2 separate regions of the Homo sapiens genome follow, and region 2 is linked to region 1. Evidence: fine-mapped expression QTL. A gene starts in region 1. The other region holds a variant in brackets. All regions are shown on one strand. Distances are between the middles of the regions.

What was found. PIP is the estimated chance that this variant, and not a neighbour inherited with it, causes the effect.
Region 2: its variant is the best candidate, but not a certain one, in a credible set for the expression of SLC44A2 in whole blood (INTERVAL, PIP 0.60).

Annotation. Positions count from the first base shown.
Region 1 is chr19:10,623,289-10,628,655 of GRCh38, reverse strand. It overlaps SLC44A2 (solute carrier family 44 member 2 (CTL2 blood group)), which reads right to left and starts at 3,103. Exons shown (of 22, transcript NM_020428.4): 1 at 2,986-3,103; 2 at 2,355-2,403; 3 at 861-934; 4 at 652-736. The coding sequence starts at 3,022. RefSeq lists an enhancer at 4,064-4,645.
Region 2 is chr19:10,554,847-10,560,213 of GRCh38, reverse strand. KRI1 (KRI1 homolog) reads left to right here. Exons shown (of 19, transcript NM_023008.5): 10 at 278-404; 11 at 506-601; 12 at 685-855; 13 at 1,975-2,050; 14 at 2,154-2,242; 15 at 2,319-2,445; 16 at 2,532-2,662; 17 at 4,865-4,929; 18 at 5,029-5,127. Among named protein-coding and RNA genes, the nearest start is that of MIR1238, 5.4 kb to the right of the region's middle. The variant T/C (reference allele first, on the strand shown) is at 2,438.

The sequences.
Region 1 (5,367 bases):
TGCTTACTATCTCATTTAGAGCTGTGTGTCCCCAAGGACTAGACTAGTGGCTGAGGGTAGTGGGACGTTTATCAGTACTTGTTTTCTTTTCTTGTTGTTTTGTTGAGACCAGGTCTCGCTCTGTCGTCCAGGCTGGAGTGCAATGGTACAATCATACCTTACTGCAGCCTTGGCCTCCCAGCTCAAGCTATCCTCCCACCTCAGCCTGCTGGGTAGCTGGGACTAGAGGTGTGCCCCACCACGTCCACTTAATTTTTGCTTGTTTGTTTTGAGACAGAGTCTCACTCTGTGCCCCAGGCTAAAGTGCAGTGGCACGATCTCGGCTCATTGCAACTTCTGCCTCCTGTGGTTCAAGTGATTCTCCTGCCTCAGCCTCCTGAGTAGCTGGGATTACAGGCATGTGCCACCATGCCTGGCTAATTTGTGTATTTTTAGTGGAGACGGGGTTTTGCCATGTTGGCCAGGCTGGTCTCGAACTCCTAGCCTAAAGCAATATTCCTGCCTCGGCCTCCCAAAGTGTTGGAATTTCGGGCGTGAGTCACCGCGCCCAGCCTATAAGCACTTGTTAACTGGACTTAGAGAGATGGGGAATGCCTAGAATCTTCTGCCCCCTCTTCCCCAGCCCCACCAGGCCGCAAGGAGTCAACTCACTCGTTTTTTGTGCCCTTCTGCCCGCAGAACTCGCCCCGGCTGTCAGTGGGGTAGATCACCTTTCGAGGGTCTCCATGAGTCCAGGCTGTGGAAAGATCCAGGGATACTGAGACACTGCCACTCCTCAGATCCAGCCCTGTTCCCACTCCAGAGGCCATGGCTGCCTCCGCCTACCCTGCAACTCCAAGTCCTGCTCATTCTCTACTCACCTATGATGCCTACAGCCACGTAGCCCACAATGGCCAGGAGCAGGAACACACAGCATATGATATCCGTGCAGCCCCTGGGGAGCAGAGGGGCAGTGTTTGGAGGAGGCTTGGTGCTGTGTGCACCATGGGCCCATCTGCCCTCTGCAAACACCCTCATCCATGTGTTATTTGGACAAATTTTCCTGAGTCGTTTGAATGCCGTACCAAAGGGCACATGCATTTTAATTTTTATTTCATTTCATTTTTTAATTTTGTGCAACAGAGTCTCACTCCGTCATCCAGGCTGGAGTACAGTGGCATGATCATAGCTCACTACAGCCTCGAACTCCTGGGCTCAAGTGATCCTCCTGCCTCAGCTTCCCAAGTAGTTGAGACTACAGGTGCACACCACCACACATTTTTTTTTTAATTTATATACATTCTGTAGAGACAAGGTCTCGCTATGTTGCCCAAGCTAGACTTTTTTTTTTTTTTTGAGAGGGAATCTCACTCTGTCGCCCAGGCTGGAGTGCAGTGGAACGATCTCAGCTTACTGCAACCTCTACCTCCCAGGTTCAAGCGATTCTCCTGCCTCAGTCTCCCAAGTAGCTGGGATTATAGGTGCCCGCCACCATGCCCAGCTAATTCTTGTATTTTTAGTAGAGACAGGGTTTCACCATGTTAGCCAGGCTGGTCTCGAACTCCTAACCTCAAGTGATCCACCTGCCTTGGCCTCCCAAAGTGCTGGGATTATAGGTGTGAGCCACCGTGCCTGGCTGTATTTTATTTTTTTGTTATTTTTTTTTGAGACAGAGTCTCGCTCTTGTCCTCCAGGCTGGAGTGCAGTGGCGCAATCTCAGCTTACTGCAACCTCCACCTCCCAGATTCAAGCAATTCTCCTGCCTCAGCCTTCTGAGTAGCCTCTGAGTAGTCACAGCTACTGGAGAGGCTGAGACAGAAGACGTGCTTGAACCAGGAGGGGAAGGTTGCAGTGAGCTGAGATTGCACCACTCCAGCCTGGGTGACAGAGTGAGACTCCATCTCAAAAATAAATAAATAAATAAATAAATATAAACATGGTAAAAATTAAGTCCAGGCCAGGTGTGGTAACTCACACCTGTAATCCCAGCACTTTGGGAGGCCAAGGCAGGTGGATCGCTTTGAGCTCACGAGGTCGAGACCAGCATGGGCAACACAGCGAAACATCTCTGCTAAAAGTACAAAAAAAAAAAAAAATTAGCCAGGTGTGGTGGTGCAAGCCTGTAATCCCAGCTACTTGGGAGACTGAGGTGGGAGAATTGCTCGAACCCGGGAGGCGAAGGTTGCAGTGAGCCGAGATTGAGATCGCGCCACGGCACTCCAGCCTGGTGACAGAGCAAGACTCCATCTCAAAAAAAAAAAAAAGTTTCAAATATTTGTCACCAGTTTGTTGGAGAACAGATGGGAGGGGGTGTGAAGAGACAGGGATTGGGGTAGTATTAGCGGGGAGAACCCCCCAAAACCCAGAGCTCTTACCTATTGTAAATGGGTCCTTTGAAAGTGGGATCATACTTCTGTGGCGTTCCTGAAAGTCAAGAAGATTAAGATGGATGGGATTGGAGACCTGAACCAAGACAGGGCTGGGAGAGCCCCCTCCCAAAAGCCCCTAGGGGTGTCTTTGCCTTGGCAAGAATAAAATTCAGAGACCTGTGGAATTTTCTGCCTCACCCACCTCCAGGTGACCACACCCAAGCCCCCAGTTCTGGCAGGCCAGGACAGGGGAGGAAGGAGGGATCACTAACTGTGAACAAACTTATTAACTGGCGGCCACCCACTGGGAAGAGGGCTGAAATGGTGACCACCACGGAACCAGGTGGAGATGGGGAAGATCTGAGGTGGGATAGGGGGAAGGAGGCGCCGGCAGCAGTGCCAGGCAGAGGGGTACAGGGGCAGGTCCTTCGGGTAGGGGAGAGTAAGGAGGGTCGTCTGCGAGGCTGCGGGGGATAAGTGGGGTGAAGGGGCCTGGCTGATGGTGGGGAGGCTCCAGGCGCAGATTTGCAATTGCGCTCCCCCTCCAGCCCCCTTCCCTGCGCCCCATGTTCTCTCAAGGCCCCCTCCGAGGGACCGAGGGGTCGGCCCGGGGCTACGGGCGGGGGTCGCTGCCTACCGTGTTTCCCGTAGTAGTGGGGCCGCTCGTCCCCCATCCCTGCAGGCGACCAGCCCCGGCGGCCGCCCGCGCTCTCTCCCGCGCCCCCTCGACCCTCCCGAGTCTGGAGGGAGGCACTGACCGCGCGACTGGCGGCGGCTCCTCCCAGCACAGCGCCAGGCGGGGCGGCCCAAACCGGTCAGACCGGCCCGAGCTGGGCAGCTGCCCAGACTAAGGGACCCGGGAGGGCGCGGGCGGGGCTGCAGCTGCTCCCGCCACTCACCGGCCGGCCGCATTTAGCCTTCCCCGCCCCCACCCGGGAACCCTGCGGCTTCACCCTGGGAACACCCTGCCACCGGGCGATGCCGCCTAGAACCCCTGGCCACCCTGAAAGGGCGTTTCCGTGGCTTCGTTTTGCAGGTGTGGAAACTGAGGCACTGGGAGGGAAAACGGCCTACTGCCCAAACCCAGACAACCAACTGTGGAATGTTGGTGCTGAAAACTTCTCCAAGCTGTGCAGGAAATTAGTTTTCTTTCTGTCTGCTGCTTTTTTTTTTTGAGACAGGATCTCCCTCTGTTGCCCAGGCTGGAGTGCAGTGGTGCAATCACAGCTCATCGCAGTCTCGACCTCCCTGCCTCAAGCCATCCTCCTGACTAAGCCTCCTGAGTAGCTGGGACTACAGGTGCTCTACTGCACTCGGCTAATTTTTAATTTTTTTTGTAGAGATGGGATGTTGCTATGTTGCCCAGGCTCATCTTTAACTCCTGGACTCGTGGGCTCCTCCCACCGTGGCCCCCCAAAGTGCTGGGATTACCTGCGTGCACTACTGGGCCTGGTCTTAGAACAAGTATTTATTCAGCCCTTAGTGGGTGCAGGCCTTGGGCGGGGCACCGCATACAGTGAGGAACCAGAGAGACCCAATCTCCACCCTTGTGGAGCCCACATCCTCCTGGGTCGCCCTGAATTCAAATGCTCCTTCTGCACCCTCTGAACTAGAGGATACTTAACAAAGGGCTTATCTTCCTTAAGCCTCAGTTTCCTCAACTGCAAAATGAGGCTAAAGTATGAAACCAAAACTGACCTCAAAGAGCAGGCATAGGCCAGGTGCAGTGGCTCATGCCTGTAATCCCAGCACTCTGGGAGGCTGAGGCAGGTCGATCAGGATTTCTAAGCCAGCCTGGCCAACATGGTGAAACCCCTTCTCTACTAAAAATACAAACATTAGCCAGTGTGGTGGCACATGCCTGTAATCCCAGCTACTTGGGAAGCTGAGGCAGGAGAATCGCTTAAACCCAGGAGGTGGAGGTTGCAGTGAGCCAAGATTGCCTCACTGCACTCCAACCTGGGGGACAGAGTGAGACTCTGTCTCCAAAAAGAAAAAGAAAAAAGAAAATAGGCTGGGTGTGGTGGCTAACACCTATAATCCCAGCACTTTGGGAGGCCGAGGTGGGCGGATCATGAGGTCAAGAGATCGAGACCATCCTGGCCAACTTGGTGAAACCCCGTCTGTACTAAAAATACAAAAATTAGCTGGATGTTGTGGTGTGCACCTGTAGTCCCAGCTACTTGGGAGGCTGAGGCAGGAGAATCACTTCAACCCGAGAGGCGGAGGTTGCAATGAGCCGAGATCGTGCCACTGCACTCCAGCCTGGGTGACAGAGCGAGTGTCTCAAAAAATCAATCAATCAATAAATCAAAAATTAGCCGGGTGTGGTGGTTCATGCCTGTAATCCCAGCACTGTGGGAGGCCGAGGCGGGCAGATCACTGAGGTCAGGAGTTCAAGACCAGCCTGGCCAACAAGGCAAAACCCTGTCTGTACTAAAAATACAAAAATTAGCCAGGTGTGGTGGTGGGCACCTGTAATCCCAGCTACTGGGGAGGCTGAAGTAGGAGAATCGTTTGAACCTGGGAGGTAGAGGTTGCAGTGAGCCGAGATTATGCCACTGTACTCCAGCCTGGGCGACAGAGCGAGACTCCGCCTCAAAAAAAAAAAAAAATACAATACAATAAAAATAGAGACAGGATCTCACTGTGTTACCCAGGCTGGGCTCAAACTCCTGGCCTTAAGCAATCCTCCCACCTCAACCTCCCAAAGTGCTGGGATTGCAGGCACGAGTCACCACGCCACAACCTGCCTCTACTTGAATATTTATAGATATTTATAGTGCAGCCAATTATTTGGTTAACATGGCATTATACAGGTGGTGTGGAGGTATCCTCAGCAGGAATATACATTTAGTGCTGGGTGTACACAGACAGCATGAGGTTATACAGTCAGCGTGATCATATACATTTGGTGTCCAATAATTGTAGCTGCTGCCTTAGACTCTAGGACTCGCAGGCAGGGCTCTGGTCACTAACTCAACTTATCCTTAAAAAGGCGCCCTCTCCTCCTAGTAGC
Region 2 (5,367 bases), 68 kb after region 1:
TTTTTTTCACAGATGGTGGCAGAGTTAGTCTTCTGTAAGGCAGAGCCACAGAGTATAGGCTCTGGAGCCAGGTGGCACTGCCTCAAATCCTGGTTCGGCTTCAAGACTTTCATGCCTCAGTTTCCCCATCTGTAAAATGAGGACAATAGCAGCGTGCACCTTGTAGGGTTCTTGTGAGGATTAAATGAGTTCATACGCTTCGTACCCAGGCGTGCAGGAAAGGGGGGCTCGACCTCACTTGGCTGGCCCCCTGGCATCACCACATCTTGCCCCTCAGGGTCCACGGTCCCCCAGTCCAGCTGGCTGTGGACGACTCCTCAGACGAAGGGGAGCTGTTTCTGAAGAAACAGGAGGACTTTGAACAGAAGTACAATTTCCGTTTCGAGGAGCCGGACTCAGCATCGGTGTGTGGCTGGGGCTGGGGAGGACTCAGCCCCCAGGGTTCAGGCCCAGGGAACCCCACATCATCTCTGCGGCCCTTGTGGGCTTTTCTGATTGCGCCTAGGTCAAGACCTACCCACGCAGCATCGCGTCCTCCGTGCGCCGTAAGGATGAGCGCAGAAAGGAGAAGAGGGAAGAGACTCGGGAGCGAAAGAAGAGGGTGAGTGTGGGGGGTGAGCTGGGGAGGACCCCCCAGCCCTGGAGGAAAGCCCATGCCCTCCCCCTCTCTGCCTGGGCCTGCAGGAGAAAGCAAAGAAGCAGGAAGAGCTCAAGCAGCTGAAGAACCTGAAGAGGAAGGAGATTCTGGCCAAGCTGGAGAAGCTGCGGAAAGTAACAGGCAACGAGATGCTGGGCCTCGAGGAGGGGGACCTTGAAGACGACTTCGACCCTGCCCAGCACGACCAGCTCATGCAGGTGCGGCCCTCATCCCGGCCCAACATGACGCTGAGTTCACACAAACATGGCTCTCACTGGCCACGGTGGCTCACGCCTGTAATCCCAGCACTTTGGGAGGCTAAGGCAGGCAGATCACCTGAGGTCAGGAGTTCGAGATCAGCCTGGCCAACATGGTAAAACCTCATCTCTACTAAAAATACAAAAATTAGCCAGGTGTGGTGGTGTATGCTTGTAATCTCAGCTACTTGAGAGGCTGAGGCAGGAGAATTGCTTGAACCCGGGAGGCAGAGGTTGCAGTAAGCCGAGATCATGCCACTGCATTCCAGCCTGGGCGACAGAGGGAGCCTCTGTTTTAAAAAAAAAAAAAGACCTGGCCGGGTGCAGTGGCTCACACCTGTAATCCCAGCACTTTGGGAGGCCGAGGCAGGCGGATCACGAGGTCAGGAGATTGAGACCATCCTGGCCAACATGGAGAATCCCCATCTCTACTAAAGATACAAAAAATTAGCCAGGGTGTAGTGGCGTGCACCTCTAATCCTAGCTACTCGGGAGGCTGAGGCAGGGAATCGCTTGAACCCGGGAGGTGGAGGTTGTAGTGAGCCAAGATCTCGCCATTGTACTCCAGCATGGGCTACTGGGTGAGACGCTGTCTCAAAAAAAAAAGATCTTAGCCGGGCGTGGTGGCACATGCCTGTAATCCCAGCTATTCCGGAGGCTGAGGCAGGAGAATCGCTTGAAACCGGGAGGCAAGGGTTGCAGTGAGCCGAGATAGTGCCATTGCACTCCTGCTTGGGCAACAAGAGCGAAATTCTGTTTCAAAAAAAAAAAAGACCTGGGGCCTGAGTAGTGCACCAGGTGGTGGGCACCACAGGGGCGAAGGTGGGTAGGACGGCGAAGAACTGTGGATATGTGGAACTGAATGGCGGCCAGTACATCACAGGGTAGACAGCAGGGGAGTTGGCGGAGGATCCTGGACATGCAGGGCCTCCCACCTCAGGAGCTAGGTGCTGGGAGGGCTGTAGGGAGCCCTAGCTGTAGGAGTAAAGTTGCCAAGGAGGGGGTCATTGGCGGCATCGTAGGGGGCTCAGCTCCTATGTCTCGAGTGGGCTCTGGTAACCGCCAGCCCTGACCCTGCAGAAGTGCTTTGGGGACGAGTACTACGGGGCCGTGGAGGAGGAGAAGCCACAATTTGAGGAAGAAGAAGGGCTTGAAGGTGAGATCAGCTGGGGCACTGGGCTGGGGATTGGGGACTGGGGACTGGGACTGAAGCCCAAGGTCCCACCCTGGCCCCACCTGTCTGTTCTCCCTGCATCCAGACGACTGGAACTGGGACACGTGGGACGGGCCTGAGCAGGAGGGAGACTGGAGCCAGCAGGAGCTGCACTGTGAGGACCCCAACTTCAACGTAGGTATCACGGGTTGAGGGAGTCCCAGGGGCCCTGACGGGGGGCTGGTGGGATCTGACCTGTGCGTCCTGGCAGATGGACGCCGACTACGACCCCAGCCAGCCGAGGAAGAAAAAGCGCGAGGCCCCCTTGACGGGCAAGAAGAAGCGCAAGTCGCCCTTCGCCGCGGCCGTGGGGCAGGAGAAGCCCGTGTT[T/C]GAACCCGGTGAGGCCCAGGTGGGCAGGCCGTGGGTAGGCAGGGGGCACCGCGGGGCCTGGCATAGCCCAGCAGCCTGGCTCTGTCTCGAGCAGGGGACAAGACGTTCGAGGAGTACCTGGATGAGTATTACCGGCTGGACTACGAGGACATCATCGACGACCTGCCCTGTCGCTTCAAGTACCGCACAGTGGTGCCCTGTGACTTTGGCCTCAGCACTGAGGAGGTAGGGGCCCCGGGCAGGCAGGGACACTGCAGGGGGCACCAGGTATGCCGAAGGGGTAGAAAGCTGGCCCTGAGTCCCAATCTCTGTTGCTCAGAAATGCCACAACATGGCAGGCTGTTTCTTCATCTTGAAAATGATAATATTCGGTTGGGCGCAGTGGCTCATGCCTGTAATCGCAGCACTTTGGGAGACCGAGGCAAGTGGATCACCTGAGGTCAGGAGTTCGAGACCAGCCTGGCCAACGTGGTGAAACTCCGTCTCTACTAAAAATACAAAAAAATTAGCCAGGCATGGTGGCAGGCGCCTGTAGTCCCAGCTACTTGGGAGGCTGAGGCAGGAGAATCGCTTGAACCCAGGAGGCAGAGGTTGCAATGAGCCGAGATTGCACCACTGCACTCCAGCCTAGGTGACAGAGCGCCAAAAAAAAAAAAAAAGAAATGCTAATAGTCCTAATGACAGTGCTAATAACATTACCTCACCTCAAAGGTAATATTACTACCTTCTACAAGGTGGGGGCTTAAAACAGTGCCTCACCTATGGCACGCCCCGTAAATATTACTTCTTTTTTTTGAGACATAGTCTCGCTCTGTCACCCAGGCTGGAGTGCAGTGGTGCCAACCTCCTGGGCTCAATTGATCCTCCTACCTCAGCCTCCCAAGTAGCTGGGACTACAGGCATGTGCCACCATGCCCAATTAATTTTTTTTAATTAAAAATATTTTTTGTACAGATGATGTTTTACTGTGTTGTGCAGGCTGGTCTCGAACTCCCTGGGCCTAAACAAGCTTCCTGCTTTGGCCTCCCAAAGTGCTGGGATTCTGCGTGTGAGCCACCACACCCAGCCAATATTACTTTTTATTTTTGTTTATTTTTTGATTGGTTGATTGGGACAGTGTCTTGCTCTGTCACCCAGGCCGGCATGCGGTGGTGCAAACTCAGCTCACTGCAAACTCCGCCTCCCAGGTTCAAATGATTCTCCTGCCTTAGCCTCCCAAGTAGCTGGAACTACAGGCATGTGCCATCATGCCCAATTAATTTTTGTATTTTTAGTAGAGATAAGTTTTACCATATTGGCCAGGCTGATCCCAAATTCCTGGCCTCATGTGATCTGCCTGCCTCAGCCTCCCAAAGTGCTGGGATTACAGGTGTGAGCCACCAGGCCCAGCCAATATTATTTTATTCCTGTCAGTATGTATTAGCAGCAGTCTGGCTGGTAAGACTTGGTAGCAGGGCTGGTCACACTGGCTCACACCTGTAATCCCAGTACTCTGGGAGGCTGAAGCAGGAGGATCACTTGAGCCCAGTAGTTCTGAGACTAACCTGAGCAACATAGGGAGATCTAGTCCTAGCTACTTGGGAGGCTGAGGTAGGAGGGTTGCTTGAGTCCAGGAGGTTGAGGCTGCTGTGAGCTGTGAGCCTGCCACTGCACTCCAGCCTGGGTGACATAGTGAGACCCTGTCTCAACAAAAGACTTGGTGTCCTCTGGAACCAGGGGGCCTAGGTGGGTTCAAGCCCTGGCTTGGCTGCTCACCAGCTGAGTCTTTGGACAAATGATTCCCCTATCTGTGCCTCAACTCCCCATCTGTAAAGTGAGACAATAATTGATAGCACCCCAACTTTGGTGACTATGGAAGGAACAGAAATGAGACCAAAGTGTGTGGCACCTGGCAGGCTGTGGGTACCTACTATGCCTGACTGATGACGGCTGAAGGTGCACGACCATTTTCATGGTCAGTAAAAATAGCCGATGTGTACTAAGCTTATACCATCGGCATTCAATCACTTCCTCTTTCTGATGGCCTTCCAGTAGGTTTGGAAACAGGCCTAGAGGCTGGGAATGACAGTTTCATATGTAATTAGGAAGCCTGGTGGTTGGCAGCGACCCCTGCCCGTTCTGAGGCTTTGGGGATGGCCGGGTATGGGTGACAGCTCAAGGGCCCTGAGGCTCAAACTGGAATCAATTCAGCCAACTTCCCAGCCATCTGGCCTAGGGCAAGGATCCGTTCTCTGAGCCTCAGTTACCCCATCTGCTGACCTCTACAAAAATCATTGGCCTCTGTAGAGATCAGCTGTCTCTGGCCATCATGGCAACCCTGCTGGGTGGTAGCGGCATTACCGTTTTGACTAATGACATGACTTAGGCTCAGGGAAGGCCCCGCCTGGGCAATATCACAGCAGGTCCCCACTCTCCCTTCCCACGCAGATCCTCGCTGCTGACGATAAGGAGCTGAACCGGTGGTGCTCCCTAAAGAAGACCTGCATGTACAGGTGATGGGGCGGGGCGCGGCGGGGCCACATGCGCAGGGGGCAGGGCGGGCAGCCTCGGGCACTTCCCAGAGCACCCAACACAGGGGCATCTGTCTGCAGGTCAGAGCAGGAGGAGCTGCGGGACAAGCGGGCGTACAGCCAGAAGGCCCAGAACTCATGGAAAAAGCGGCAGGTCTTCAAGTCACTCTGCCGAGAAGAGTAAGCAGTGCTGGCTGGGGAAGCGTGGGTGGGGAGCCTGTCAGGCCCAGGCTTGAGTCTTGGCTCCGTCAACCTCTTGTTGCATGACTTTGGGAATGCAGCGCCCCCCGCTCTGAGACCTGGGTTCGAATCCTATATGGGCACCAACGTTGTGTGACCTTGGGCAAGTCGCTACCCCTCTCTGGGCCTCTTTCTCATAAGATGGAGATAGAGACGGTTCTGCCTTATCAAGTTGCAGAG